Linked DNA regions of Homo sapiens. The protein of the gene in region 2 purifies or fractionates together with the protein of the main gene of each other region. This does not show direct contact. Each region holds a gene or a part of one and is shown on either strand. Other genes may lie near its edges.

Region 1 (7,354 bases), on a different chromosome or scaffold from region 2:
GCTTGATAAATTCCTTAAGGAGCTATGGCTGTTAATCCATTTTTATGTAACAAGAAATGTATAAAGCATGTGTAAGTGATGGATTTTTTTAAGAAGTTACAGCAGTTTGGTTACTAGTCCCCCATAAGCAGACTTTACATTTAACTAATAATCAAAAGCCTTTTACATAGATGCAAGTATCTGAAGTACCTTTGACAGAAGGAAAGATAATCAGTAAAGTCTGGAAACAAAAACCTTCCAGGAAGGAGATTAGTCTACACTCCAGAGAAATAATTTTAAATACTGTATTCAATCACCTAAGAAAACAGCCTTACCTGCCTTACAACCTTTTTTATGTAAGCTGCATGTGACCTCCATTGCTTGGGAAAGGACAAGTTCAAGTCTAGACTCTTCTTTGTCCCTCAAGTTTCATCTCTCTCAGTATGCTATGGGTTTGTTTTGTGTTTGTGGGGGTTTTTTGTTTTTTTAAACCACAGCCTTCAACAGGGTACGTATTAGCCCCAATGACTTTGTCCAGAATCTCTGTTCTCTGGAAAATAATTCCAACACACTGCTTTTACAGGTGCTTCTCTTGGTCTCCTAGTCCACATTTTCAAGAAACCAAAATGGCAATTACCCTCCACCACTCACCTTAATATACAGGGAATCTCAAATTTGTCTCAAACCAAAAGCATCTAGCACAAAGTTTTATTTGGAAGAAAGTGCTTCTAAGAAATCATTTTAAACTTGAGACCTTAATGCTGGCAAGATGACTTAGTTGAGTCTTTAAAGAGACACAGAACACACAGGGCCTTCCCCAAACCAGAATATAGTTTTTGTTACAAGACTTCTAACAAGGAAGGATTCTACTGAATTCAAGTTCCTTTAGTTCATACTTTGTTTTATAATACAATCTCAGCTGCTGCATTTAGTAAAAAAGAAAACATTAATCATATGATAGAGTGTTCAAAATAATAGGTTACTCTGCATTTATTCCCTTCCAAAGAGGGTAAGTTTATACTTTTCTGCTCTATATTTAATTTTTCTTGTTAATGAAACCTTATACAACGTAATTCTAGACTGCCCAGAGATATTACTGGATTTGAGTGGGAGGAAGGACTTCTAAAGAAATATGCAAGGATTAACTATTAGGGAAGTGAATTTCATCTGACTTTCTTGGATGTCACAGAGAAAGCTGACTTTTTCTGTGCATAAATTCTTCACCAAGTTGCGTCAATAGGTTGCATAGGTCTTTGTATCAAGAAAGATTTTTTTAAGGTAGCTTCTCAGGTAATTTTTAACCCATTACCTCTTCCCCCTACACATATTGGCACACAAAAGCCCATAAGTATTTCAAGCTAGAAAGGATTATTTGCTACACAGTAGCCCATTTTCCCAGGTTAGCATTATAGTCGTTTCAACTTTACAAAAAAAAAAAATGTTTAACCAAGTACCCCGAATCCAAATCAACAAGACTACATATACACATATATACGTATATATATAAAGACGAGAGGAAAACTATTTTGTTTTAAAATTGGCTCTAAGATGAAGTTTCTAATATGGCATAGTCATTTCCAACCCACTACTGTAACTTACAAATATTGACTGTTTTCTACTCCACATGTGATATCTATTTGTGAGGATAAGTTATATTGCAGGTATAAACTGCATGACTAGCTATACACTATTGCATATACTGTACCAGTCAGATGTAAACATATTAAAAAGTCATCTTGAAAGATATAATTAACCAAGAAAGAAAAAAATTCTCCTAATCACTCTTGCTAGTAACATTTCCCTCTTACAAGTGCTTCGAAATGTGACTAAGAAAATTTTTACCACCTAGTAGTGACAACACTGAGCAACAGGTCAAAAGTAAGTGATCTGGAATGGATCACTTGAGGGCACAGAATTAGTAGCAAGCAGACCCATTCCCAGCTATCACACTGGAGATGAAGAATCTTGTTACTTACTTGCTCTTTCTTAGAAAATAAAAAGATTTAAAGGAAGTAGGGTGAGAAGTATTGGAGACCAAGGAAATCGTGCGAGAGTAAACAGAGGTTTCAACACAGGAGTGCCCTTGACTCTTTTTTGAAAACTAGCTACTTAAAAAAATAGCCAGAGAAATTTCACTGAAAAAACTAAATAACAAATATTTATTGAGAATCTACTATGTGTCCAATACTTCAGGAAAATACAAAAGCAGTATGACTTAGTAGCTGCCCTCAGGGAGCTTACAATCTAATTTAAGAAACAATTCAGAAACTGAAGCTAGACTGAGTTGGGTAAAATTTGCTACCTCTAACAGAACAACTAATTTCTGTAGATGCTTTGTTGAAATGGCCCCTGCATCCCCTTCCCCACCACCTTGATATCTAGTTAGTAAGAGTACTTCCCAGTTAGGACATAGCAAGGAGGAGCTTTAAAGATGAAAAACAAAACAGGACATTTTTAGGCCTTTCATCACTAGTTTATGTGCCAGCAATATTTCCCATTCACAAAGGAAACAATCATTGAGATAGTCTAATCTTTAAGGACAATGGTGTCAGATCTCAAAGCAGTTTTATCAACTGATACACAGCCAAAATGTTTTAATTCTCTGTAATCATTGGGATAGTCTAATCTTTAAGTACAATGGAGACAGATCTCAAAGCAGTTTTATCAACTGATACACAGCCAAAATGTTTTAATTCTCTAGAAACGCTGGTTACTAGTAATGTCCATCACCTCCCAGCAAGTCACATCAGGTATCCCCAAAACAGGATATGCGGCGGAGGAAGGTAGGATGGGAGAGAAGACAAAAAAAAAGGATTTCTCCATTTAATAATCAGGGAGAGTCAAAGGCAAAAACGTTAACAATAATAACAAAAACGCCTGTTACTGTGGTGTTTTTCTTTCCACAACATCCTACACCAGAGGTGGCTACATTTCAAGAATGGTGGAAAAGGAGCAGTCTCCAGTTTGTGACATCAGTTTGCAAAGCAATTTAAGGGCTGTCCACAAGGTTAAGGGTTTGAAGAAACTGGGCATTCCTGTACCATTATGAGAAGAGTGAACAAATACCCCAGTGCTCTAGTGACGTCCCTTAAGCGTAAATACACCCTATGGGGGCCTCCATGTCCAGCTTCCCAAATAACACAATTGTTTGGGGTACCCAAACTACAGTATAAACAGGAAGCTAAAGACAGCAGCAAAAACATATTCCAAGAACTGGGTTGGTGAGAAAGAAGGGAGGGTAATAAGAGGAGCTGACAAAGAGCCTGGAAACGGAGAGGGGACGCAAGCCCACGGGTGGAGGATGGGAGGCTCACCCCCCTCAGCGCCACATCGAGAGCCCACGGGGCCAATCTCCTCCCTACCTCCCAGCCGGAACAAATTAATCCTTCGCACACCAAACTGAGGGCCACATGGGGGAGTTTGGGGGAGCTCCACCCCATCGCCCTCCCTCCCCCACGCCACCCCCAAACCAGGCCGGATCCGGATCAGAGGAGGCCCGCAGTGGGTGGAAAGGGAGGAGGCCCTCTCCTCCGCAGGCACCGGCCGGGGTGAAGAGAGAGCCCTACCTCAGGCAAGGCCCAGGCCTCGCTCGCTCGCGCTCTTTCTCGCTCTCCCCTCTCAGGCTCTAGCCGCATGGCCCCCCCTTCCTACGGCTGCTCCAAGCCCCGCCCCGGCCACGCTCCCAAATCGAGGCCCCGGCTCTGGCGCGGCCCACTAGGCCGCGAACCCAACCATAAACAAAACCTCCGGGGGCCGACTCGAGGTGGGGGGCGCCAGGGCTCGCATGACTCGGGGGGGGGTGTACAGTGGGGGAACACACGGTGTGGGGGGGCCTACCGAGGGAGGGGATACGGCGGGGGCAGGGGAGAAAAGAGGGAGGGTAAAAGGGGGATCGCGGATTTAAAGGGGCCGCGGACAATACCCGGCCCCGCCGCGCTGCCGCTGCCGCCGCCGCCGCCGCCAACGCCGCTGCGCTCCCAACTTTACCTCAGTCTCCTCCACACTGACACCCCGGGCCGCGCCGCCCCTGTCACGTGATATAAGATTCCCTCTTCCCCACCCCCTCCCTCCTTTTCCCTCTCGCGCTCGCTCTCGCGCCTTCCCCCGCCCACTTGCCTTCCTGCGTCCCTCAGCGCGTGACGCTAAAAGGGGCGCGCACGCAAGCGTGCGCGTGCCGCCTCGCCACGAGACACCTCTTTCCGGCTCCGCGAGTCCACCCCGCCTCCTTCACGGCGGCCCTGCCTCCACCACGTGACGCACGGATGGCCGCCGCTTCCTCTTACTGTCGTAGTTCCGCGTCTGAGCGCTCGACGCTCCTGGGTGCCATTGCCTGCCTGAGTCACGTGTCAGGGGGAAGCTGGAAGGCGTCGTTCTCCTTTCCCAGCTCTCCTGCCTGTCCGCCATGTTTTCAGGCCGGGTCTGGCTTGGTCTTCCCCCGTAAGGAAATGGCCGGGGAGCTCCAGGGGACCCAGGCGCCGTCGCTTCGGCGGAGCCTGGGCTGACCAGCCAGGACAGCGGGGTAAACCCGAACAATTCTGCGCGAGGTAGGGAGGCCATGGCGTCCGGCAGTAACTGGCTCTCCGGGGTGAATGTCGTGCTGGTGATGGCCTACGGGAGCCTGGTGAGGAGATTACCCCACCCCATTCCTGCTGTCGCATCTTACCCAGTAGAGACCCTCCTTTTGAGCTGTACCCCGTCTGCATTCTCCACCCACTCACCTGCGCCTATCCGGGCTTTGACTCCTTATTCCAGGAGTAGGTGGGAGTTTAAGTCACTTAGTCGGGCCGACCCGCCCTCGTTAGTCTAGAACCCTCCCTTTAACGCTAGAGCACAGACCCCACGCCTCCCTGCTGCTGGCTTCTTAGATCCACCCCCATCATAACGGCCTTGCTTTGCCCCAAGTTTTACCCTGAAACATTCCTGAGAGCCGGAATCTGGGGATTTGGAATGAAGGCATGCTTTTTTAAAAAAAAAACAAAACAAAACTGACTTTTTATTAAAGGATTTTTACATCTTTTTGGACAGGTGTTTGTACTGCTATTTATTTTTGTGAAGAGGCAAATCATGCGCTTTGCAATGAAATCTCGAAGGGGACCTCATGTCCCTGTGGGACACAATGCCCCCAAGGTAGGTCCTTAGGGCACAAGTTAAACATACTTCTCCAGATCTTTTAGGGTCAAGAATGAGATTTCCTCTGCCTTTAGTGATGACTTTAATTCTCATGTTTCTTTGCGTGCACTTGTCCTTGTACTTACTAAGTTGAGCAGGCACTGTGCGCTTTGGAACTTGGCTTACCTGCTCAGTGCTGTGGCAAGCATGTGGCTCATCCTGGAACTTCTGTTTTTGTATCTGCAGAATGAAGGGCTTGGGTCGAAGTTCCCAACTGTTTGTAGTAAAATATTTCCCAGCTCATCTTAAACTACCCAGTGTTTTTTGTTTGATTAGGATGGGGTTGAGATCATTAAGGTTAACCCAAGAGCAATGAGAAGGGTTACCTTTACATAATTTTAGACTTAAGAGGAGCTCCATAAATCATCTAATTCCACCATTCATGTTACCAAGAAGCCCAAGAAAAGGAGGCAGTTTACCAGAAGACGTATAGGAAGTGAATAACCCAGTGGTCTTTTATCTTTGTCTGTACTTTCTCCTTAGGTGACTGTCTTCCTTTCCTTGGCTTTAGCTACAGATGAAATTTTATCTCTATCCTAGAACTCTTTCCTGAGTTCCTTACATATATTGCCAACTGATTACCTGACATTTCCACTTAGATTTGTAGTAGACATCTCAAACCCAACATTTGTGAATCAGAATTATTGCTATCCCACTGCCACTCTCATTCTGCTTCTTTAGTCTTTCGCTTCTAAGTAAAAGACACCTGCTTCCCTTACCAACCCCCTTTTGTGTGGCTCTCCCCAGATCACTGGGACCCAGCTCCACTGGCTGAATTTTCCACCCTTTTTGCTCCTGTGATCTGGAATGGTCTTCAATTGGCTAGCTCATTCATTCTTTTGATCTTAGCTTAAATGTTACTTCCAAAAAAGGAATGCTTATTACCTATTTTAAAGTAGGTTCCCCCTCTCTTTATTTTCACATGGTACCCTGATTTTTCCTTCATAGCATTTACCATAATTTTTATGTTTGTCCATTTGTTTAAAACATGCCTCTCTCTTCCGCTAGACCGTAAGCTTCAAGAATGCAGGCACCATGCCAGTTTTGTTCACGACTATAAAGCCAGGACCTACACATAGTAGGTACTCAGTAATTTCTTGTTGAATGAAAAACAGGTTAGTGCCAGGGCCTACACATAGCAGGTACTCTGTAATTTGTTGCTGAATGAAAAACAGGTTAGTTGTAGAGCTAGAGCTCATGACTCCCTCAACTCCTAGAGCACTGTACTTTCATTAACAAGTGCTATTAACCTTCCCCTCTTTGTTCTTTGCTGACATAGTACATGAAAAGGCTCTAGGAGGATGTCCTGGCTTGAAACCTTAACAGTCCTGCCTGCCTCATGAGAAAGACATAGGGTTAGTTTCTAGCACATCATGAACCAATCAATACTTTGGCTATTCAGGGGTCCCTTGGTCTAGTTCAGAGCAATATTCCTTTTGCTTAAAAATTTTTTCTAAATTCTCAACCATTGCTAGTGAAAGTATAAATTAGTAAAACCACTTTGGAAAATAACTGGTCATTGTCTGGTAAGATTGCACATGTACCTAATCCATGGTCCAACAGTTTCTCTCCTACCATAGAGAAATTAAGTTTTGCTCATGTGTACCAAGAAACATGTGCAAGATTATTTATAGGGGCATTGTTCATAATATTTGAAGAAGAAACTTAATTCAAATGTCCACTTTTCAATTATTATATAGGCTGAGTGCAGTGGCTCATACCTGTAGTCCTAGCACTTTGGGAGGCTGAGGCCAGAAGATCATGTGAGCCCAGGAGTTACAGACTGCAGTGAGCTATGATTGCACTGATGCACTCCAGCATGGGCAAGAGCAAGACCTTGTTTCTAAAAAATAGGTAGTGGTATATTCATATTCTGGAATAGTGTAAAAAATGAAAAACTGAAGATAAATATATGAAGACAAGTCCTCAAAATACTTCTGAATGAAAAAAATTGCAAACATGAATCTCAAAAACATGCTGAGTGGGCCGGGCATGGTAGCTCATGCCGGTAATCCCAGCACTTAGGGAGGCCGAGTTGGGCAGATAACACTTGAGGTCAGGAGTTCGAGACCAGACCAGCCAACATGGTGAAACCCAATCTCTACTAAAAATACAAGAAAAAAATCCTAACTACTCGGGACGCTGAGGTAGGAGAATCCCTTGAACCCAGGTGGCAGAGGTTGTAGTAAGCTGAGATCAAACCACT
Region 2 (7,024 bases):
CAGCCAACACTATATCATAGATTGCAGAAAAGTAGTCCAGAAAGAAAAAAGAGTAAGAAGATTAGGCCAGGCGCGGTGGCTCACGCCTGTAATCCCAACACTTTGGGAGACCGAGGCAGGCGGATTACGAGGTCAGGAGATTGAGACAATCCTGGCTAACACGGTGAAACCCCGTCTTTACTAAAAACACAAAAAATTAGCCAGGCTTGGTGGCACACGCCTGTAGTCTCAGCTACTCAGGAGGCTGAGGCAGGAGAATCACTTGAACCCAGGAGGCAGAGGTTGCTGTGAGCCGATATCGTGCCACTGGACTCCAGCCTGGGGGACAGAGCGAGACTCTGTCTCAAAAAAAAAAGATTAGACATTTATTAACTATATGTCAAGCACTATGCTCAGTTCTTTTTTTCTCCTTTAGTTCTCATGGTAACTCAATAAAATAGGTGTTATTATTATTACTACACCCAATTTACAGAAAGGGTAATTAAGAAAATATGAATTCAGGCAGTTTGTCTATGCTCACCCAGCAAGTAAGCTTGGGATTAGAATTCAACTCAAATCTGACTCTAAATCATAATCTTAATCTTTATGCCATATTCCCTCCAAGCAGTGCAGAACATATATTGAGTCCTAAAAACCTAAAAGTACCAGAAGGACAGGGAGAAGGCAGAGAATCCCTTTAACTTTACACCACTGATGCAGAGGTATGTATTGAAAAGTATGATTAGGTTGCCATGGAGTAGTTGGAAGATGTAAGCTCTATCCAGCACAGTCCATGAAGACTGTGACTCATGCATCAGCAGCCAGGCACAGTTCTGGATAAAATGGGTTATACAAGAGGGGCTGGGACAGTAAGAAAGGGAACAAGGGAGATCCCCTTCTCTATCTCTGTAAAAAAGATAGGTTCTCAACATTTTTTGAATCTGAAAGAGGGACTTGGCCAGATGTATGAAATATCAATACATGGTTCCTATTCCACATTTGCCTAGGAATACACACCAACCAGCATCACCAATGGGAGGGAGAATGTATTCAAAGTTAGTTTGTGGCTTACCAGGTCGACCTACAATGCCTCCATAAGAGCAAGAAAAACTCTGAAATAAAGGCAAGGTAGAAAGTCATGATTTCACGTGGCTTCTTTGGGAAGTTCTCACCTTCCCAGATGCCTCCACATCCTGCAACACTTGGCAGTCTAAAACCACTTCCTCCTCCATCATTTCTTCACTCCATCGTTGGCACTGAGGGTACAGATTTGTCAATGAACTATTTTATGTTTTTCCCCTTGCAATCTGGCAATATTAGCTCTCTAATGAATTGCTTCAACTCGTATATTTTTTGGACAAATGTGACTTTTAGTTGAATTGTGCAACATCCATAAATAGCAAATCCTGGCTGATTAGAATCAACGAATGCCCTTAAAGTTGCCAGTAAAAATGGGCCCTTAGCTGCATGTTACTTAATAATTTGAAAGGCATCTGATTATTTTTGGGAAAAAACCTTTTACACACACATTCTGTCATCTGTTATGTATGTAGATATGTATTTGAATTTGAATGGATTATTGCAAGCCAGCCATGTTATGAATATAAGTGCTAGATATACTTGGATTTGAAACTAAACACATCTGGGTTTGAATCCTACCCTCTGCCACTTACAAGCTACGTGAACTTGGGTACATTTCTTAATCTCTCTGCCTCTCCAGTTTCTCATATGTAGAATAGATGTAATAAATCCCTTGCAAGCTTGACTTAAGGAATAAATGAGACCACACATACAATGTACTTGGCACAGTGTCTAGGCATATTATGGCTTAATAATTAGTAACTACTATTATCATCATGATGTTCTATTAATAGAGGATTAGAGTAGACACAATTTGTGGTCTCTACCAACACTTAATCTTCCCTTTCTGAAAACTGCCACAGCGATGGGCCTCCAAAGCCATATTTCTATTACATGACCCTGCTTTAGTGATAGGGCAAGAATAAGGATACCAAGCAAATGTGAGTTTAAGCAATTTTCCTATACTCACCCAGCCATTAGGTTTTTTACACAACTTAGCAGGTTCTCTTTCCTGAAAGTTTGGATTAGGAAATAGTCCCTATTATCCCTCTAAACTAAGAAATTGTGAGGCGGTCATGTTTGGCAACATGCATGCCAAGGCACTAAAAGTCAGTCTGCAGAATGTTGTTGATGTGCAGAGAGAAGCAGATTGACTTTGACTTGAACTCAAAACAATGCCTTGGTTCCGATAATTTTCCACTTCCATGAGAAACCATCTTCCTTCCTTCCTTCCTTTTTCTTTCTTTCCTTCTTTTTCTCTTTCTTTCCTTACTACTTTGGGTGGGTTTCCATAGTCTTCAACCAAAAGATCTTTGTTAACAGTGTCATCTCTGTGCATAAGGCCACCAGATCTTCTCTGCATGGCTTGGATGACCTAAGCATTTGAAAGGTACCTGATTTAAACAAACAAACAAACCCCAAAAACTTCATACACACACACACACATGCACACATGCGTGCACACACACTTTCCTTGTTATCCTTTTTCAACTCCTGAAGAGCATTAGGTATAAAATCAAAATAATCATATATGTAAGGAAATCATGTATGTATGGAAAAAAGGGAATAACAAAAATATAAAAGAAAAAGAGCCATCAACATTCCTGATCTTACAAAAGTAGGTCATCTGATCACTTTCCAGAAACCAAGAAAGAATGGAGAGACCCCAGCTCTTTACCTGGTGTTGCACTGGATACTGTTGGCCACTGCTGATCAGGCCCTCCTGGACCAGCCCGTAGAATGCCAGCCTCCTCTAGGTGCACAGAGCTGAATAAACACACAGACCCAGATAACGGTTAGATCATAAATTCTTTCCCATCTCTTCTTCCACCCTCAGAAATTGCTTACAACTATGAAGCCAGGGCTGCAGCTAACACATTCTGCTCATGCTTGAACTGAAGCAATTACTGCTGAGCAGTCACCCTGCATAAACTGCAGAAGCATTGCTGACTTACTTATTGCCTGCTATACTATTCCAGGAACACACATGTTCTATCTTTATGGCAATTCTGTTTTTTATTAACGCCATGTGGCGCTCACTAAATCTAACAGGAAGCCCATCAGAGGACTAAGCCATTTTAACATCTCGATACTGAAGCAGATGAGGAGGGCTTGTTCTCAAAAGTTCCAAGCCTCTCTTGCAGGTTCTCTTGTTCCTAGGTTCTCTACTCTAAAGAAGAAAACACACTAAAATATTTTCTGATAATTGGAGTATTGTTCCAATTTGGCTATCTAATTAATTCTTAACCTTATTTTCTATTTTACTCTTTCTATATCTTTTATGCATAGATGACCCACCCTATATTTCCTGAGACTAGAGAAACTTGATCACCACCACTCACAGATCCCCGCTCAGAAGAGATTAATTCAGCATAAAACATTGCTGGGAGTGAGATACAAACTGGGAGACCTTTAGAGGCAAGCAGAGATAGAACATAAACTGTTCAAGGGAAAAGAGAACATGGTGCAGTATTCATTTATGTATGTCTAATACTAACTCATATTAATCTCTCAAATATTTGTTGGATGAATGAATGAATGAATGAATGAATGATGGAAGGGAGGAAGGAAGAAAGGAAGGAAGAAATAAGTGGGATCCTAAGAGAAAATGTCCAAGAAAACCCTCATCAAAATTAGAGGAACATTTTGTTTTATTTTATTTATTTTTGAGACAAAGCCTCACTCTGTCACTCAGGCTGGAGTACAGTGGCACGATCTCAGCTCACTGCAACCTCTGCCTCCCAGGTTCAAGCAATTCTCCTGCCTCAGCCTCCCAAGTAGCTGGGACTACAGGCACCCGCCACCATGCCTGGCTCATTTTTGTATTTTTAGTAGAGACAGGTTTTCACCATATTGACCAGGCTGGTCTTGAACTCCTGACCTCAAGTGATCCACCTGCCTCACCCTCCCAAAGTGCTGGGATTACAGGCATGAGCCACTACACCTAGACTAGAGGACCCTTTTAAACTAGACATTTGCTTATCTTGAAAGTTAAATTTCTAAAATAAAATTTAGACTACTGACTAAAGGGGTTATATGAGGCAACAGAGCAGGCAAACTTGAACTATTAGAGGGAAGGCAACATATAAGTTCAATGTTTTCTCACTCTTTGACTTCAAACAACATATCCAGTAGAAATTCACTCATTAAACTCTGACCTTTTACTATTCTTCCCCTTGTCTACACTCTAGAATTATCTGTTTTTTTTCCCCAAATATTAACAGCCTTCAAGTGTTCCTGGATCCTACTAGCAAATTGTGTGGGCTCAGTCAGATTCATGAAGGTGTAACTATCCTGGAGCCAGCTCAGCTCAAAGCAGAATTTTTTAAAGAATAGTTACATGATGTCCAAGACTGGAAAGACCGAGAACACCCAAGCACACATACGAAAAAGATTAGTATTATTTAGGTTCACAACTCATTTAATATGTTCAATGTATTACAATGCAAAAAAGAAATGGCATTTTAATTTCAATTTTTATTTTATTTCTTACCCTACTCAAATCTCATAATATCTTAATTGAAACCCGAATAGGAGCACATTTGGCTTTTTTTTTTCAATTTGAAAATGGGATAAGGAAGTTATGTTATTTTATTCATTTATTTATTCTTCTGAGACAGAGTCTCGCACTGTCGCCAGGCTGGAGTGCAGTGGCTCGATCTTGGCTCACTGCAACTTCCGCCTCCCGGGTTCAAGCGATTCTCCTGCCTCAGCCTCCCTAGTAGCTGGAACTACAGGCACATGCCATCACGCCCAGCTAATTTTTGTATTTTTAGTAGAGACAGGGTTTCACCGTGTTGTCCAGGATGGTCTCGATCTCTTGACCTCATGATCTGCCCACCTCGGCCTCCCAAAGTGCTGGGATTACAGGTGTGAGCCACCGCGCCCAGTCCAGGAAGTTATGTTTTAATGTTTTATTTCAAATGTAGTTTTTAAGGCACAACTCATAGCTTTGGTACTTTTCAAGAGTTGGTACTGTAAACCATGCTTTTACCCATTGCATGTCTCCACCAACAGCTCAGATGCAGGCAAAAGCACAAGTTGGTCTCTAATAAATATAAAGAATTTCTTCTGATACCTAATATTCTGGTATATGCATGAATGTTTCTGGCCTAAAATTATGACCCAGGTTCCAATGTGACATCTTACCAAGCCAACTACTAATCTTCAGCCCTTCACTGATTGCTTCTGAATCAGAAATAGCACCCAATGTAATGATTTCTGCTCATTTGTAATGCTTGAGAGTATGTTAATTTATTTCAATCTAATGCATTTTAATGGGCTAAAACTAATTTCACATTAACTCTACACATACTTTGTAGGCTTTCTCTTTACGAACTGATCTAAGTTTGGTGAATATTCACTTGATAGTTGCCCAGATATTTTGAGGGGCTTAAGTTTGAAGATTATTTCTTCTTTAAAATTAAATCCTTTTGATAGTTGTGATCATTTGTTTCTTGGTCCTTCCCATTTGGTTTCCAAAGACATTCGCAAATAATGAATCTTTTATTTGGCCCCATGGCATGGATACTGGATCACCTCCAGAAATAATGGTAGTTAATCAATTACTGTCAGAGAGACAAAGTAGAGAAAGCAAAATTATATTTAATCTGAGTCTTAGACTAATACCGTTACTCTAGGTTAATTTAAAGTAAGCTAGATTTGGAGCCCTTTACATGGCTCATCTTCTGAAGAACCATGTCATTGATGACAATAAGATAGCAACAGATGGGAAAGATGAGGAGGCTCTAATAGGTGTGAACACAAACAACAATAGCAATCAATTATTGAGGGTAATAGGATGTAATAGCCAATGTGAGATTAAAAAAAAAACAAGGTAGACAACATGTATGTATACATTGCACAATGTACCCAAGTCTCAAAGCATGAGTATTAATTACAGTTTTTAAAGGAGGAAAAGAAAGCATAGGTAGAGAGGGATGAAGGAGGTTGAAATTACTTCCCTGTAGAAATTTTGATGGGAGAAAATACATAGCAGCCTGTTTCTGTGATTTTACAGAGGACTCTTATATGCCAGCACTTGATAAGCATCTGGCACTGACCATTTGCGATCTTTCAAGGAATAAACATGGGGACAAAATAATTGCATTTTCCTGGCAAAGTACCTAAAGCTTTTTAGTTTTGACAGCTGCTTCTGGCCTATGGAGATGCAGTTTATCTGAGCCATACCAAGTTAAGGTTACTTCTGAGTGAATGAGGAGGGAAATACATACCTGTGCATGCCTGCTCTCAGGGAGGCAGAGTAACGCCAGTCAGGGTTGGGCTGTCGTGGCTGCAAAATCACAAAGAGAGTTTTCTGTTAAAATGACAAGACAATGTTCTCCCAGGAATGCTGCTAATTGATTAGTTACTCCCTTAAATATTTCCAGGCATCTAAAAAAGTATTGAATGAGCCATTTCATGTGTAACTCTATGATGATATCTACATATATAGCACTTTAGAAGAAAATTAGTTCATCAGGGTCCTCACACAGATTAGATACCCTGGAAGACCAGATTTAATAATCTTGTAAAGGCCACCTTTGGCTTTGCCTTGCCCAATACATGTCTGTGTTCTTAAAACACTACGGGAAGAACAGTCTGCTTTGAGAAAGGAAAAGCTTTCACTGCTTTTGCCCTCAAGTGCCCCATTAAGGGAACATTCCCAATTCAGTATTACAGCTATAACAGGGCACATGGCTACACAAGTTCTGCTGGCCTGGCTGGACTGCAGAGGACTGCAATCTGCTGCTGGCTTTGCAGACTGCAGCATATTTGACCCAGGGCGGATGTGCCCAGTCATAACACCAGCAACTGATAACAGTCTCTTTTCTGATTGAAGAGGGATACTAGGGAGAGGAAAACAAACTATTGCAGAGTTTGACCTTGTTTTGCTAGCTAATCCTTTTCATAAACTTGTACTTGTTCCTGCTCCTTCCTGAGTGCTTTCCCTCCTCACTGAATC
Region 3 (7,355 bases), on a different chromosome or scaffold from region 2:
GCTGGGGATGAAGGGGAAGTATGTGGACTCTTTGTACTATCTGCTCAATTATTGTGTAAATCTATAATTATACTAAAAAAGTAGGCTTATTATTTAAAATAATTATGTGAAATTCAAATTTCAGTGTCTATAAAGCTTTATAGAAACACAGCCATGCTCACTTGTTTATGCTGTCTCTGGCTGCTCCTGCACTATCACAGCAGACTTGAGTAGTTGCAACAGTGACCATGTAATCACAAAGCCTAAAATATTTACTATCTGAACCTTTACAGAAAATGTTTGAAGACTCTTGCTCTAAATTTCATTACCTAAGTTAAAAAGAAAAAGGAAAGCACATCCCTCACAGGCTGTTCTGAGTTAATCACTTTATTTAAATTATTTAGAGTTGTTAAAATCACAGGACATACTAATTACATAATCTGATTTTTAAATTTTAACTAGATAGTGTCTAATATTAAAAAAAAATCAAGGCTAGACACAGTGGCTTGAGCCTGTAATCCCATCACCTGGGAGGTTGAGGCAGGATGACTGAGGCCAGTTGGAGACCAGTCTGGGCAACACAGCAAGACCCCTGTCTCTACAAAAAATTCAAAAATTAAAAATTAACCAGGCATGGTAGCGGTGTGCACCTGTAGTCCTAGCGACTCAGGAGGCTCAGATGGAAGGATCACTTGAGCCCAGGAGTTCCAGGTCACAGTGAACTATGATTGCATCACCGCACTCCAGCCTGGGCGACAGAGCAAGACCCTGTCTCTAAAAGAAACAACAACAACAACAACAAAATCAAGTAAATCAGTGAAGTACTTGAACATCCAAAACAGCAACTGTCACAGAACGAAACACTATCAGACAGTAGTGTTTCACTCTATTGCCAACAAAATCTATCCTACTTACTGAACACCTAAGGAATTAAATTAAAGTCTTCAAAGAAGAGAAGACTGTTAACAGTTTGAAAAGGGAAACCTGGAAAACAATGGAAATGGGCACATTCAGGGAGGGACAGGGCAGGATACCCGATAGAAGTGAGTCGGTGAACTGACTACAAAGAACTGAATGCTCTGTTAGAGAACATTAAGTCAAGTGATCAGATAAGTCTGGAAAATGCAGCCTGGGTATCAGAAGACGACATAAAATTATGCTACCAGGAAGTGTCCCACAGTTATACTTTAAGAAATGTCACTGGCCGGGCACAGTGGCTCACACCCGTAATCCCAGCACTTTGGGAGGCCGAGGTGGGCGGATCACCTGAGGTCCAGAGCTCCAGACCAGCCTAACCAACATGGAGAAACCTCGTCTCTACTAAAAATACAAAATTAGCCGGGCGTGGTGGTGCATGCCTGTAATCCCAGCTACTCGGGAGGCTGAGGCAGGAGAATCGCTCAAACCCGAGTGGCGGAGGTTGCGGTGAGCCAAGATTGCGCCATTACACTCTAGCCTGGGCAACAAAAGCGAAACTCCATCTCAAAAAAAGAGGTAAAGAAAAGAAATGTCATGAAAATATAATAGCTGACTAGCTGACAAAATAAATCATAACTACCCAATATATTCAAGTAGTCTTATTAATAACCAGGGATCTTAGGAAGAATAAAATCTGTAGACATGAGTTAGGAAAGCATTATAGAATAGATGCTAGGGGTACAGACTTTGGAGGTAGAAAAACCTGGTCTGATCCTTCTTCTGCCACTAACTAGCTCTAAGAATCTGAGCACAAATTCTGTTAGCCTCAGTTTCCTCATCTCTAAAATAAACAGTACCTCATTGGACTGTTGGTAGGATTAAACAAAATACTTCATGTCAAGAGTTTAACAGGGTCCCTGACACAAAGAGCTAAATAAATGGTTACTGTCACTAATGCATTTGGCTTGGGAAAATGGGAATAAAAAATCTTAAGTTTTCCAGCAACTCTTAAAAAATCTACCCAAGGATTAAAATAAATCTCCAATAGAATATAGTTTTAGAGAACATCTGTCCTTGAAACAATTAAATGACTTTGTTCAATAAAAAGTTGAGATTCCTTCCACTCCTGCTATTGAGAATGCTGATCCAAGGGAGAAAGATAAACTGGGTTCCCCCCAGTTCCAAGGCTGATGAGTGGTGTAGGCTCACTAGCGGGCCCATTTGGGAACCTACACAATCCCAAATTCATATTGGAACCTAAGAACAATATTACTATTATATCTTGCAATCAAGAGGAGAATAAAAGTCTCCTCTAAATACTTAGATAACAAAGTTTCTTCATTCTCATTTCCACTTCATCCCATTCCACCCTTCCTGACCACCAAAACCAAACAAAATATCCATTAACAAGAAAATTAAGAGCTGTATCTGGAGAGCAGTCAGGATTACACCATAAGTATTAGGTGTAGCTAAGCAGGGACCCGAGGTCAGGTGCTTGGGTGTTTTGCTTTTCTGCCAAGACGGACATCAGGCTTAAACCAATAGTAAAAGCTGTAAGATTAGAATTTCTTGTATATAACCACATTCTCTCATATACACCAAACACACAAAAACCCACTCCATTGTGCTCACCGCCCACATTTCACACTCAGGAAATAGCTTGTAGCCTTTTTGGCGGTCCCAGCCATTTTGCTCTAAACCTCCTAAAGACGTCCAGTGTTAGCCACACAAAAAGATCACCCGGTACTTCCCCAGTGGGAATAGTGAAAAACGACAGTTAACTCCAGTTAGACAATATTCTACTCTCCCTGTGGCCAGGACAGAAGCCGAACGATACTCCCAGACTCTTCCAGGGGCACGAACAGGAGTGACGAGGGGCCTCACTCCCCAGGCAGGGTTGGTCCACACCTGTCACCACGAGTGGGCGGAAGTAGGGAGGAAGAAACCTTTAGACGCGAACCCGAGCCACCCTGGTACATTCTCAGATCCCACTCACCCCAATCTTCATCCAGCCTGTGAAAGAGTCCCGGGCTAAAAGGTGACTCCATGGTGCCGGCAACCCCAGCCGGCTCCCCCATTTCACAAGTTCCTTCTCCCTGGAACTCCGTGATTAATATCTGGGACGGCGGCGGCAGGCGGACAAAATACTCCGTAACGCTGACGAGACGGTGGCCTAGTAAAGACAAACTACTTTTGCCGCACGAGGGATTTGTACGACACAGGAAAACGTCAGAGACTAAGCAAATTTGAATAGACCTCTGAGTAAATATTTCCCTTTTGGAGTTTTCAGGACTTTCTGTCCCGCTGTTTTATGGGGAAGGCGGGGGAAGACACGCAGACATCAATTCGACTAAACAAAGTTTATCAATAATATTAAAAATAAAAAGTAAAGCCCCTTTCTGAACATTATGGCTTATTCCTTGATTATCCTTCTTAATGCCACAGCGTGGCTATCTCAGAACAAAATTAGAGACTAACAGTAAATTTACTTTAATTTTTACGAATAATTCTCTATCAATGTAAAAATTTTTCATATACGCGTGTATGAAAGAAAAACACTACTATTTTTCCACATTCGTGAAAACTGCTTAACTGGGACAGTAACCGAGGTAAGTGGTACTATAAAACATACTTCTAGAAAGACTACTTTTATTTAAATAAATTGAAACAAAGCAAATATAAAAAGATAAACCCCCCAAATTTATCTCCTAAAGATAAATTTCTAAAGCATAGTATTTAGTCAAAGTCCAAGCGAGTCTACCCTAAGACCTACAGTAATCGAAGTTCCCAATATTTGTATTACTAAAGATTCGGGTTTTATTTAAAGGAAAATCACATACATCACGAACTCCAACTGAAAATATGAACTGAGTTTGATAAAGCAGTTTCAAGAACGCTACTTAAGAGAATTTCTTTTTCATCCATTTTAAATTTCAGCGGCCAGTGAATATTTAAAATACTGTAACCGACGAATACGTATGCTTCTAGGACCACGTGGAATCTTTCCCATGGTAGGTAAGCAAAACAAATGTGCTTCCCAGAACCCTCCAAACTGCTCGTGGGTATATTACTACAGATTACATAATGCAGCAGCGTTCCGGGACGCAAGCCCAGAAAAAGATAATTAAATCCCCTTACGTCAGATGTAACTACTTTTGTCATTAGAAAACTAATAAATTTTCACTTAAGGTGAAATTTATAACACTTTAATTCTCACCCAATTACAAATTCAAAAATTGACATAAAAAACTAAAATAAGGCCGGGCGCGGTGGCTCACGCCTGTAATCCCAGCACTTTGGGAGGCCGAGGCGGGCGGATCACGAGGTCAGGAGTTCGAGACCAGCCTGGCCAACATAGTGAAACCCTGTCTCCACTAAAAATACAAAAAGTTAGCCAGGCGTGGTGGCGGGCAAGTAGCTGTAATCCCAGCTACTCGGGAGGCTGAGGCAGGAGAATCGCATGAACGCGGGAGGCAGAGGTTGCAGCGAGCGGAGATCGCACCACTGCACACCAGCCTGGTCGACATTGCGAGACTGCGTCTCAAAAAAAAAAAAAAAAAAAAAACCTAAAATAAAATAAAATCATCGAGTCTTCTGTATCCCACTAGACACCTTAGTCTTTTAAGAAAATCACCATGACAAATCGCCAATTTTTTTAATTTCCAAAAGATTTTATTTTTATTCAAAAAGTGCAAGTAATTATGAAACAAACATTTGTGACCTATCACCAAGAATTTAAAAATTTAACATTTTTCATTTTTGTCCCAGATTTTTCATAAGAAATTAAATACTACAGAATTGAATTCCTCTTTCCTCCCTGCTTCATTTTCCTCCCTTGGCGTAGGCCACTTCTACCATGAATTTTATGGGTATAAAATTTTATTTTATAAAAATAAAAGTGTAATTCTAGTCCACTTTTATTTTTAGTTTTACGGTGCTTAAACATGTTTATAGACACATGCATTTAGTGTCATTTGGGTTTTTTTAATGTATGTAAACTTTAATGTTCTCCAAATCATTTTTCTTATTGGATATTAAGGATCTACCCATGGTATTTCCTTGAATGAATCTCAATTTCTCTCTCTCTCTCCCTCTTTTTTTTTTTTTTTTTTTTTTTGAGACAGGGGCTCACTTTGTCCCCTAGGCTGGATTGCAGTGGAGCCATCTCAGCTCACTGCAGCTTGACCTCCCAGGTTTAAGCGATCCTCATGCCTCTCCCCACAATAGCTGAGACTACGGGAACCCACCACCACACCCGACTAATTTTTGTATTTTTTGTAGAGACAGGATTTCACCATGTTGCCCAGGCTGGTCTCAAAACTTCTGAATTCAAGCAGTCCGCCCGCCTCTGCCTCCCAAACTGTTGAGATTACAGGCGTGAGCCACCGCACCCAGCCTCAAGAATGTCTTAAATAATGTATGTACTATTTTATCAGTTTACACCCTCACTAGCATTGATGAGTTCTCTTTGTTCCACATTCTCTCCAACACAAGATATGGTCAGACTCTTACCATTTTTACCGCTGTGAAAATTGCAATTTACATTTCCCTAACAAAGTGGTGCATTCTTCCATACTTATGAAACCTTATTTCCTCTTCTGTGAACTGTCCACTCTTACCTTTTATAAAGTTTGCTATGGAGTTTTCTTTCACAAATGATGTGTACGTCATTAGATAGCCTGCTCTATTCATTCACCTGTATAAAGTAAAACTAAACTCCTAAGTCCGCCACCAACAGAATAGGCCCCCTTGTGGCCAAGGGGATCCTAGAAAACCTTAAAACTGAGTTCTAGACCACGATGGGACAGGTTAGACACACCTTGTTATACTCCCTCCCTTTTGTAGTTTAACACAACAACTGGCCAGCATTAATGTTAAAACAGAGATGATAAGACTGACAGAACAGACTCTGGCAATAAGATGCCAAATTATAAAAAAGACCTAAAGCCATTCCAGGCAAGGTTTTAGTCCCACACCCCTATACTTAAAGAATAAACTGTGTTCTAACTGCCACAAGATTCTTCTCTAGCAGCTAAACAAGTACTGGCCTAAAGATAAACAATATTAAAATAATGTGCAGCTCCACGAGATGCTGACTTACTGACCCCCAGTCCCCGTTCCACCAGCCATAGCTACAGCTTTCATTGGACAACTTTTTGTTGATTTCAGTAACTTTCTCCAGGTAAGAAGACCACTGGCCATGGACTGGTTCTGGCTGGTCTACAGAGGTCGCACATTTGCATGGCTTCATGTCCTGAAAGACCTTTTGACGTATAGGGCTCGTAATACATTTAAATGTTAAGTCTTGGCTGGGTGTGGTGGCTCACGCCTGTAATCCCAGCACTTTGGGAGGCCCAGGTGGGAAGATCACGAGGTCAGGAGCTTGAGACCAGCCTGGCCAACATGGGGAAACCCCATCTCTACTAAAAATACGAAAATTAGCCAGGCGTGGGGGCAGGTTCCTGTAATCCCAGCTACTCAGGAGGCTGAGGCAGGAGTATCGCTTGAAACCGGGAAGTGGAGGTTACAGTGAGCTGAGATCACATCGTTGCAGTCCAGCCTGGGTGACAGAGCAAGACTCCGTCTGAACAACAACAACAAAAAAGTTAAGTCTCCATCCCAAAGTGAATATGGGTCATATGTTACATGAGTTTTTGTTCAATACGCATGTGTCAGGACCACTTTCATGAATATTCATAGCTCTTCCTGTAACCTGGTGAAAATGTAGGTTTAGCCAACCTGTTCAGCCTGAACTACACTCCAAGCCCTCCTCCTTCAAAGCGCCTGTTTCTGGAGGCACGCTTCCCAGCCTGCAGGATGGCCACCTTGCAGGCCATAAAGTCTCCCCTTCTTTTCTAAATTTATTCATTGTGGGGCTTTTTAATATATACATTTTTAAAAGAGAGAGAGAGACAGAGTCTCGCTTTGTTGCCCGGGCTGGTCTCAAACTCCTAGGCTCAAGCTATCCTTCTGCCTCAGCCTCCCAAAGTGCTGGGATTACAGGCATGAGCCACCGCACCCAGCCCATTGTTGGGCTTTTTTAAGTTAACGCTTGGTATATGTTATAAATACCTTCTCCCAGGTTGACACTTGTCGTCTTTGTTTACGGTGATTTGTTCTCTAGATTTTAATTTCAATGTAGTCAAATTTATCAATCTGTTGTTATGATAGCTGACTTGTAGCTTTCTTAAGAAATCCTTCCCTCTCCTGAGGTCACTAAGATTTTCATTTTCATTTTCATAGTTTTATAGTTTTGTTTTTCACATCTTTTTTTTTCTATTTGGCTATTATTGGGGTATAGCAACACTGTGGATTTTTGTACAGCAATCTTGTACCAAAAACCTTGTTGAATTCTGTTATTCTAGTATTTTGTCTGTGCCAGGAACAGTGGTACACACCTGTAATCCCAGCTTCTTGAGAGGCTGAGGCAGGAGGATTGCTTGAACCCAGGTGTTCAA
Region 4 (7,024 bases), 1.6 Mb from region 2:
TGCTTGGCAAGCAGTGGGTCTCCCAGGCTCCAGAACAATGCGCTCTCCCTGCTTGGTGAGGGTGCCTGCAGCGCCTGCTAGCCAGGGCTTGCCTTGGCACAGTCACCCTTGCAGGTGATGGGGCGTCATGGAGGATCATGGGCCATATCCAAATGAAAGCTCTCTGCTCCTGCATCCTGCCCAGGGCTCGGCACTAACTCCAATCTCAGGCTACTTTGGCATGTGGGTAACCTTGCCCAGGAGGCCTCTGTGAAGTCAGTCTATGCCTTTAGTCCTCTGGAGTCACAGTTACACCAGTATTGAAACAGATTCTGTGGTTTTGCTTTTCTTTGAAATGATTTCCTCAGGTTTTCCATTTGCTCAGCTTTTCTAAATGCTTCATTCCCTGAAATCTTGTTCCAGGAAACATTAAGGGCTAGTGACTCTTTATATTTTCTACATTGAAGGCCACTTCAACAAGCTGATGAAAGATAACTGCTTTTCTCAAAATATCACATTGCTTTTCATAAAGTTCACTGAAACCAGCTCAGAGACCCCTGCTCCAGAGCAATGACCTTGTACAAGGTCAGTGTTTCAAGGAATCATGTCCCACATCCCCACTACCAAGCTTAAAGCAACTTCTCTCCAAACTGCCAGTGAATCCTTTCATCCTTCAATGAACAAAGGGTCAACTTGAAGAATATGCTACTTTTGACAAATTCTGTTAATATTCAATAAATTCTAAGTAATTAAAAAAAATTTTGGGGAGTGGCAGGTTCCAGAGAATACCTTTTCTTCTTAGCAGAAAGTTCCCCTTCCTCTGAATGCCACTGTAACAGATGGACAGAGCATTGAGCCTTAAAGATAAACTGACTCAGGCAAATTGCCAAGAGAAGCAAGACCCAGAACCTCTCCTAAGGTTCTCTGCAAAAGAGCCCAGATTGGTCTCAACAGCTGAAAGACCGCAACAGATCCCAACTGCCCTCATGATCCAGCCCCATGAGATGGTGCTACATCCAGTCTACAGTGCAAAGCCAGGTAAAGCCAGGACTCCACCAGAAATTAGGCACTTTCTATGTGCCAGACACTGTGCTAAGAGTTACACCCATACCATCTTCCATAACCCACACAACCTCTCTAGGAGGAAGTGGATTCTATCCCCATTTCAAAGCCTAAGCTTCTACCCACTAGGTTATCCTGCTCAAGGGTGTGGAAAGAAGTGCTCCTCTACCAGTCTGGGCCAGGAGCTCAGCTCAGCTCAGCTAGGCCAAGAGGCAGTTCCTGCCTGCTACCTTCGTCCAGCCCAGCCTAGTGGTGTGGCCACTTGCCCTGGCATCAGGCTTACTATCTAGATGCAGCTGCGAAGAAGTAAACAGGACAATTAGTGTTTATAGTAAGGGATTACTCATAAAGGTTTGCCCAGATTGGCCGGGTGTGGTGGCTCACGCCTGTAATCCCAGCACTTCGGAGGCCGAGGTGGGCGGATTACCTGAGGTCAGGAGTTCGAGACCAGCCTGACCAACATCCTTGAAACCCCGTCTCTACTAAAAACTACAAAAATTAGCCAGGCACGGTGGCATGCACCTATAGTCCCAACTACTCAGGAGGCTGAGGCAGGAGAATCGCTTGAACCTGGGAGGTGGAGGTTGCAGTGCGCCGAGATTGCATGACTGCACTCCAGCCTGAGCGAGAGAGCGAGACTCTGTCAAAAAAAAAAAAAAAAAAAATTTTCACCCAGATTAAACATTCTAAGGAAGAGCAGAGAAAAATAAATGAACCAAACAAAGATTTAAAAAGTCAATGGCTAACCTTGCTAAAAACAGTTTGCATTTGGTATTTTGCCAAGAGTGAACTTTGTTCTCAAGTGGGTTTATTTTTACAACCTCCAAGTGCTAAATTTAACCTTGTTGGCTGCACTTGCTGCTGGATTCGGAGGGCAGATGCTGCTTGTTCTCAAATGGCACTTGGGTTGTGTGGAGGCTCTGCATAGCCGCTGTACTTAAATGCCAGAAATAGATTTTTAAGGGGTTTGTGCTGATAACTGCCATTTGGAACTTGTGGGTACACGCATCATGCTTACTCACTGGATTTTTTTTTTTTTTTTTTTTTTTTAGATGGAGTCTCGCTCTGTCACCCAGGCTGAAGTGCAGTGGCACGATCTCAGCAGACTGCAACCTCCGCCTCCCGGGTTCAAGAGATTCTCCTGCCTCAGCCTCCCAAGTAGCTGGAATTACAGGTGCGCACCACCACACCCAGCTAATTTTTGTATTTTTAGTAGAGAAGGGGTTTCGCCATGTTGGCCAGGTTGGTCTCGAACTCCGGACCTCAGGTGATCCATCCTCCTTGGCCTCCCAAAGTGCTGGGATTACAGGCATGAGCCACCACACCTGGCCACTCACTGGATTTTTATTTATACCTGGAGAGTGCCGAAGCTCTGAACTAGGCCTCATGGGGATGGGGACAAAAGCTGAGAAACTACCTCTGGTGCAATCCTTACCATGAGCTCTTTGTATAATTCCAGCATCTTACTGCCACAGAGGAAGATGTGGGGCAGGCGGGTGTTTGAAGAATGTGAAATGCAGATTTTCATCCAGTTCTTGCAGAAAGCAACAAAGTCAAAGCCCTCCCAGGACCCAGACAATGGGGATTTTCAGGACATACACTGGCTTTCACCTGATTTGGATCCATGTATATACTGCCTTTTTATTGAGACAGGATCTCGCTCTGTGGCCCAGGCTGGAGTGCAGTGGAGTGATCACAGCTCACTGCAGCCTTGATCTCCCAGGCTCGACCTCCTGAGTAGCTGAAACCACAGGCATGTGCTGCCACACCTGGCTTATTTTTATACTTTTTCTAGAGATGGGGTTCCCAGGCTGGTCTCAAACTCCTGGACTCAAGTGATCCTCCTGCCTCGGCCTCCCAAAGTGCTAGGACTATAGGCATGAGCTACCATGCCTGGCCTATATACTGCCTTTTAATATGAGGCCTTTATCCTGCTCTAAAATTCTTTCCTGATTTTTGATTCTTGTAAAATCTAGTTTAGCAATGGGGTAGAGTATTTCCTGAATCCTCAGTGTTTTTCAATAAATTGGAATTTCCTCTTCCTGTTTAATTTCCTCTTATATCCCAGAGTCATTGCTCACCAACTTCCTAATGCACCTTGAGAGAACATTAGGACTTTGCCGTACAGAAATAGGGGGCAGAGACCAGGTCCCTAAGGGTGAGCTAGGACACTAACCCTGCTGTTGTTATTCACAATCCTCAGCATTTTCATTGTTTTCTACTCCTGAGAATCCTCTCTTCAAAAGACATTTGTTGAGCACTTGTTCTGAAGCAAGGACTGTGCCAGAACCCTGGGACACAAAATTAGTAAGACCAAGTTCTTATTCCCAGACAGTCCATAGTCTTGCAGGGGAGACTGACATATATCCCTGGAACTCTAACACTGTGTGATTGGTACTATGTTAGCAGGCTGAACAAAGTGCTTTAAGAACACAGAGGAAGGAGAGCTTAACTTGAGGGCGGGGTTGGGAGTGTGTGATGGTCAATGAGGGCTTAGCAGCACTGTGACTGAAGAGCTAATTTTATCAGACTCCATTAGGTATTTAATGATACTCAGTAATAAGGCTTTAGAAATGAGTCAGAATTTGCTTTTTAAACATGAGCCAAAACTTCAGTTAAAAGGGTACCTCCTGAAAAATAAAAAAGAAAATAAAAATAATCAAAACCAAGTTTTAGAAGACACAGTCACTAACGCGGTATGTGTGTGTAGAATTCAAGTGGGACCAAAGGTGAAGCTGTTGGCTGAGACGGGGCTACCCCTGCTGCAGACACTCCTAGTAACACTTGCTGGAGCTGTAAGCCAGTGGCAGATGCTATCATCCCCACTGTCTCCAGAGAGGGAAATAGGGGGGAAGGCCTGCCACACCCAAAGGGGCAGACCCAAGGGGTCGCTTTTGTTCTGTGTGGCCACAACCAGCTGGAGGTGAGGGTAGGGGACACCTCATTCCATACCAGAAACCTCTAAACCTTTGTTCTGTTTCAAAAAGTTAGGCTGGCTCGATCAGATTTCCCTCTAGGGAGTGTGGAATTGGGAAACTGTGGACCAAATCAGCGAGCACCAAGAACTTACAGACGTGTGTGCTGCAGAAAGGGGCACTGACTGGTGAGACTGGGGAATTTGAGAGAGTGATAAGCAGGGTGGCAACCACTGTAAACCATGGCAAACAAGGTTATGCAAAAGGGAAGCTGGAAGAAAGAAAGGAAGGCAGCTGGTGGGGAGAGGAGAGGGGGCAGATTGGCAGAGAGAGGTAGAGACTCAAAGAGAGACAGACATACAGACAGGTGACTAGTGCCGCCTAAATTCCTAAGATTTCCAAGTCCTGGCCACATGTATCCTGTCAATAAATTTCCCCTACTTTTTTATAGTATCCTGAATGGCCTTTGTCCTCTGACTCTGTTCACATAAACATGCGTAGCCTCAAACAAGAAGAGAGGAGGGATCAGGAGGCTGGGGGTGCCTCCTGCTGGGAACCACAGCCACCAGCTAATGCCCCTTTTACAGTATCTTACTTTGTTGTTTCTCCTTCCAACAACTAGTCTGGATATAATCAATGTAATCCTTCTCTATTGTTTTCTCCAAGTCATGCAGAGAAGCTCCTCTGTAGGCCTTGTCAAAGTTTTTATCCACAAAGTAAGGCACCTGCAGGTTCTGAGTTTCTCTAGAAATGGTGTAGCCCAAGGTCCTGAAACAAGGAGAGAGAGGCTCATGTGAGCTCATAATATTTGGCAATATTACTCTTAGCACTGCCCTCACAGATATCATCATCATCATCTGCTCATAGAGCAGAGGCAGATATCATTTTCTAATATACCCAACACTTCTTATTTCCCTAGCAAAGTTGTAAGTATAACATCATCATAATTGTATTATGTAAGCAAGTTCATACTATGAATTCAGCTTCAGCATAGTTTATTCTCTTAAAGGACTCACCTCTCTTATACTGCTCTCTGTGCTAAAAGTAGAATGCTGAATGCTTAAAACAAACAATTTTTACGTTGTGTAGGATCTAGTATGGTACCTGACAGAGTAGGCTATTATAAATGCTGGTTGAATGAACTGATTATGTTATATAGCAAATTATTTACAAAAAAAACAGATAGCTCACACCAACCTAGAAGCAATATTTTGGACATGATAAAAAGTACTTCGCACATAGCTGCTAACTGAGAACTGCAAGAAACTCAGACAAAAGATTTCAATGATGCTTTAGAGCTAACTCTCTGTGGGTCCAAGACATCCAAAGGTATCTGGTGCTTAGCAACATTAATAAGAGTACTGAGCTGACTAATTCTAACCATAAGGAAACATAGAAGGGACCTCAAACTCAAGTTAAAACAATGTGACAGAAATGGTTTTCTTCAAACTGGACAAATTCTACATTAAAGGGGCTATATTTTATTTGGCCTTTTTCCGGCCCTCTCCTTTGATCCTCTCTAATTAGAGTAAGAGCTGAAGCCATGACTGCTCTCCCCTCACTCTAAGGTTTTGGGGGAGCTTACAGAGCAGGTCCGTGCTTACCCCGCTGGCCTCACAAGAAAGAAAGCTAAAGTGCCATATGGAAAAACATGAGAAGCTGGGAAACAGAGGGAATCAGGCCAGTGTGGCCTGATGGCAAAAACCTCTCTATGAAGGCTAGGTGCAGTGGCTCATGACGGTAATCCCAGCACTTTGGGAGGCCAAGAAAGGTGGAGGTCAGGCGTTCGAGACCAGCCCAGCCAACATGGTGAAACCCAGTCTCTACTAAAAAATACAAAAATTAGCCAGGTGTGGTGGCACATGCTTATAATCCCAGCTACTCAGGAGGCTGAGGCATGAGAATCGCTTGAACCTGGGAGAAGGGGATTACAGTGAGCCAAGATTGCACCACTGCACTTCAGCCTGGGAGCCTGGGTGACAGAGCAAGACTGCTTCGAAAACAAAAACAATAAAAAGAAACCTCTCTTTCAGCCTCAGCTTCGCTCTCTGTAAAAGGAAAATACTAGCCGGGCGCGATGGCTCATGCCTGTAATCCCAGCACTTTGGGAGGCCAAGGTGGGCAGATCACCTGAGGTTAGGAGTTTGAGACCAGCCTGGCCAACATAGTGAAACCCTGTCTCTACTAAAATATAAAAATTATCCGGGTGTGGTGGTGCGTGCCGCCTGTAATTCCAGCTACTCAGGAGGCTGAGGCACATGAATTCCTTGAACCAGGGATGTGGAGGTTGAAGTGAGCCCAGATTGCACCACTGCACTCCAGCCCAGGCGACAGAGTGAGACTCTGTCTCAAAAAACAAAAACAAACAAAAAAGGAAATACTGACCTGGATTGACCTGGAATGATGGTCTTGTCTACAGTGATCACTGACAAAGACTCTTCCTGTTATATATTGTCTAATAAATTCTACTTTTAAAAGGTTTTTTTCCCACTAAATTATAATAATGAATAATAATTTATTATTCATTATTAACAAAAAAGATAATCTAGTGATTCTCAAACTTCAGTGTGGACCAGAATAATCTAGAGGGTTTTTTAAAACTCAGACTTCTGGTCCTACCCCCAGAGCCTCTAATTCAATGGATATGGAGGGGCCCTAGAATCTGCCTTTCTAACATGTTGCCTGTTGATGCTGACGATGGCTGGTCTGGGGACCAAACTTTGGGAACTGAATCAACTGAAAGAATTAATTGAAGAAATTTTTAAAAATCCTATCAGAGTTTATAATCTATACGCAAAAAGCATTACAAGGAATTTCTCTATTTTCAACAAAAACAAAAAAATTGAAAATAATCACTTGATCCCCATTATTAATACTATGCTCCGAGACCCACAGGGTCCAGCAATCCTATCAACAGCTTAACAGAGTCTTTCTAACTCTACCATGGTGTGATAATGAGTTCATCTAAACCTTAAATTCTACTGATCCTTCAAAAACCAGTTACTGCTGTTCTGCAGCTGACCAGATGATGTCACTATAGAACAAGACAATCTATTTCCCGAGGCACA

The links.
Region 1: the proteins of PCDHAC1 (region 2) and LTAP1 purify together in Homo sapiens (affinity purification with mass spectrometry; 2 studies listed by BioGRID and IntAct, with this or other methods). This does not show direct contact.
Region 3: the proteins of PCDHAC1 (region 2) and ATF6 purify together in Homo sapiens (affinity purification with mass spectrometry; 2 studies listed by BioGRID and IntAct, with this or other methods). This does not show direct contact.
Region 4: the proteins of PCDHAC1 (region 2) and DNAJC18 purify together in Homo sapiens (affinity purification with mass spectrometry; 2 studies listed by BioGRID and IntAct, with this or other methods). This does not show direct contact.

Annotation. Positions count from the first base shown.
Region 1 is NC_000001.11:154,217,588-154,224,941, reverse strand, and holds the start of LTAP1 (protein C1orf43), read left to right. Parts: upstream 1-4,351; 5' UTR 4,352-4,534; coding exon 4,535-4,600; intron 4,601-4,697; exon of another isoform or gene 4,698-4,770; intron 4,771-5,004; coding exon 5,005-5,106; intron 5,107-7,354. UniProt on the Homo sapiens protein: General regulator of phagocytosis. Required to uptake Gram negative bacterium by macrophages.
Region 2 is NC_000005.10:140,978,277-140,985,300, reverse strand, and holds part of PCDHAC1 (protocadherin alpha-C1 isoform 1 precursor), read right to left. Parts: intron 6,353-7,024; coding exon 6,294-6,352; intron 2,827-6,293; coding exon 2,738-2,826; intron 1-2,737. Other genes in the region: PCDHAC2 (protocadherin alpha-C2 isoform 1 precursor), read right to left, coding at 2,738-2,826, 6,294-6,352; PCDHA13 (protocadherin alpha-13 isoform 1 precursor), read right to left, coding at 2,738-2,826, 6,294-6,352; PCDHA12 (protocadherin alpha-12 isoform 1 precursor), read right to left, coding at 2,738-2,826, 6,294-6,352; PCDHA11 (protocadherin alpha-11 isoform 1 precursor), read right to left, coding at 2,738-2,826, 6,294-6,352; PCDHA10 (protocadherin alpha-10 isoform 1 precursor), read right to left, coding at 2,738-2,826, 6,294-6,352; PCDHA9 (protocadherin alpha-9 isoform 1 precursor), read right to left, coding at 2,738-2,826, 6,294-6,352; PCDHA8 (protocadherin alpha-8 isoform 1 precursor), read right to left, coding at 2,738-2,826, 6,294-6,352; PCDHA7 (protocadherin alpha-7 isoform 1 precursor), read right to left, coding at 2,738-2,826, 6,294-6,352; PCDHA6 (protocadherin alpha-6 isoform 1 precursor), read right to left, coding at 2,738-2,826, 6,294-6,352; PCDHA5 (protocadherin alpha-5 isoform 1 precursor), read right to left, coding at 2,738-2,826, 6,294-6,352; and 4 more. UniProt on the Homo sapiens protein: Potential calcium-dependent cell-adhesion protein. May be involved in the establishment and maintenance of specific neuronal connections in the brain.
Region 3 is NC_000001.11:161,761,981-161,769,335, reverse strand, and holds the start of ATF6 (cyclic AMP-dependent transcription factor ATF-6 alpha), read right to left. Parts: upstream 3,017-7,355; 5' UTR 2,976-3,016; coding exon 2,894-2,975; intron 2,888-2,893; exon of another isoform or gene 2,530-2,887; intron 309-2,529; exon of another isoform or gene 1-308.
Region 4 is NC_000005.10:139,415,502-139,422,525, forward strand, and holds part of DNAJC18 (dnaJ homolog subfamily C member 18), read right to left. Parts: intron 4,725-7,024; coding exon 4,552-4,724; intron 3,092-4,551; exon of another isoform or gene 2,501-3,091; intron 2,216-2,500; exon of another isoform or gene 2,094-2,215; intron 1-2,093.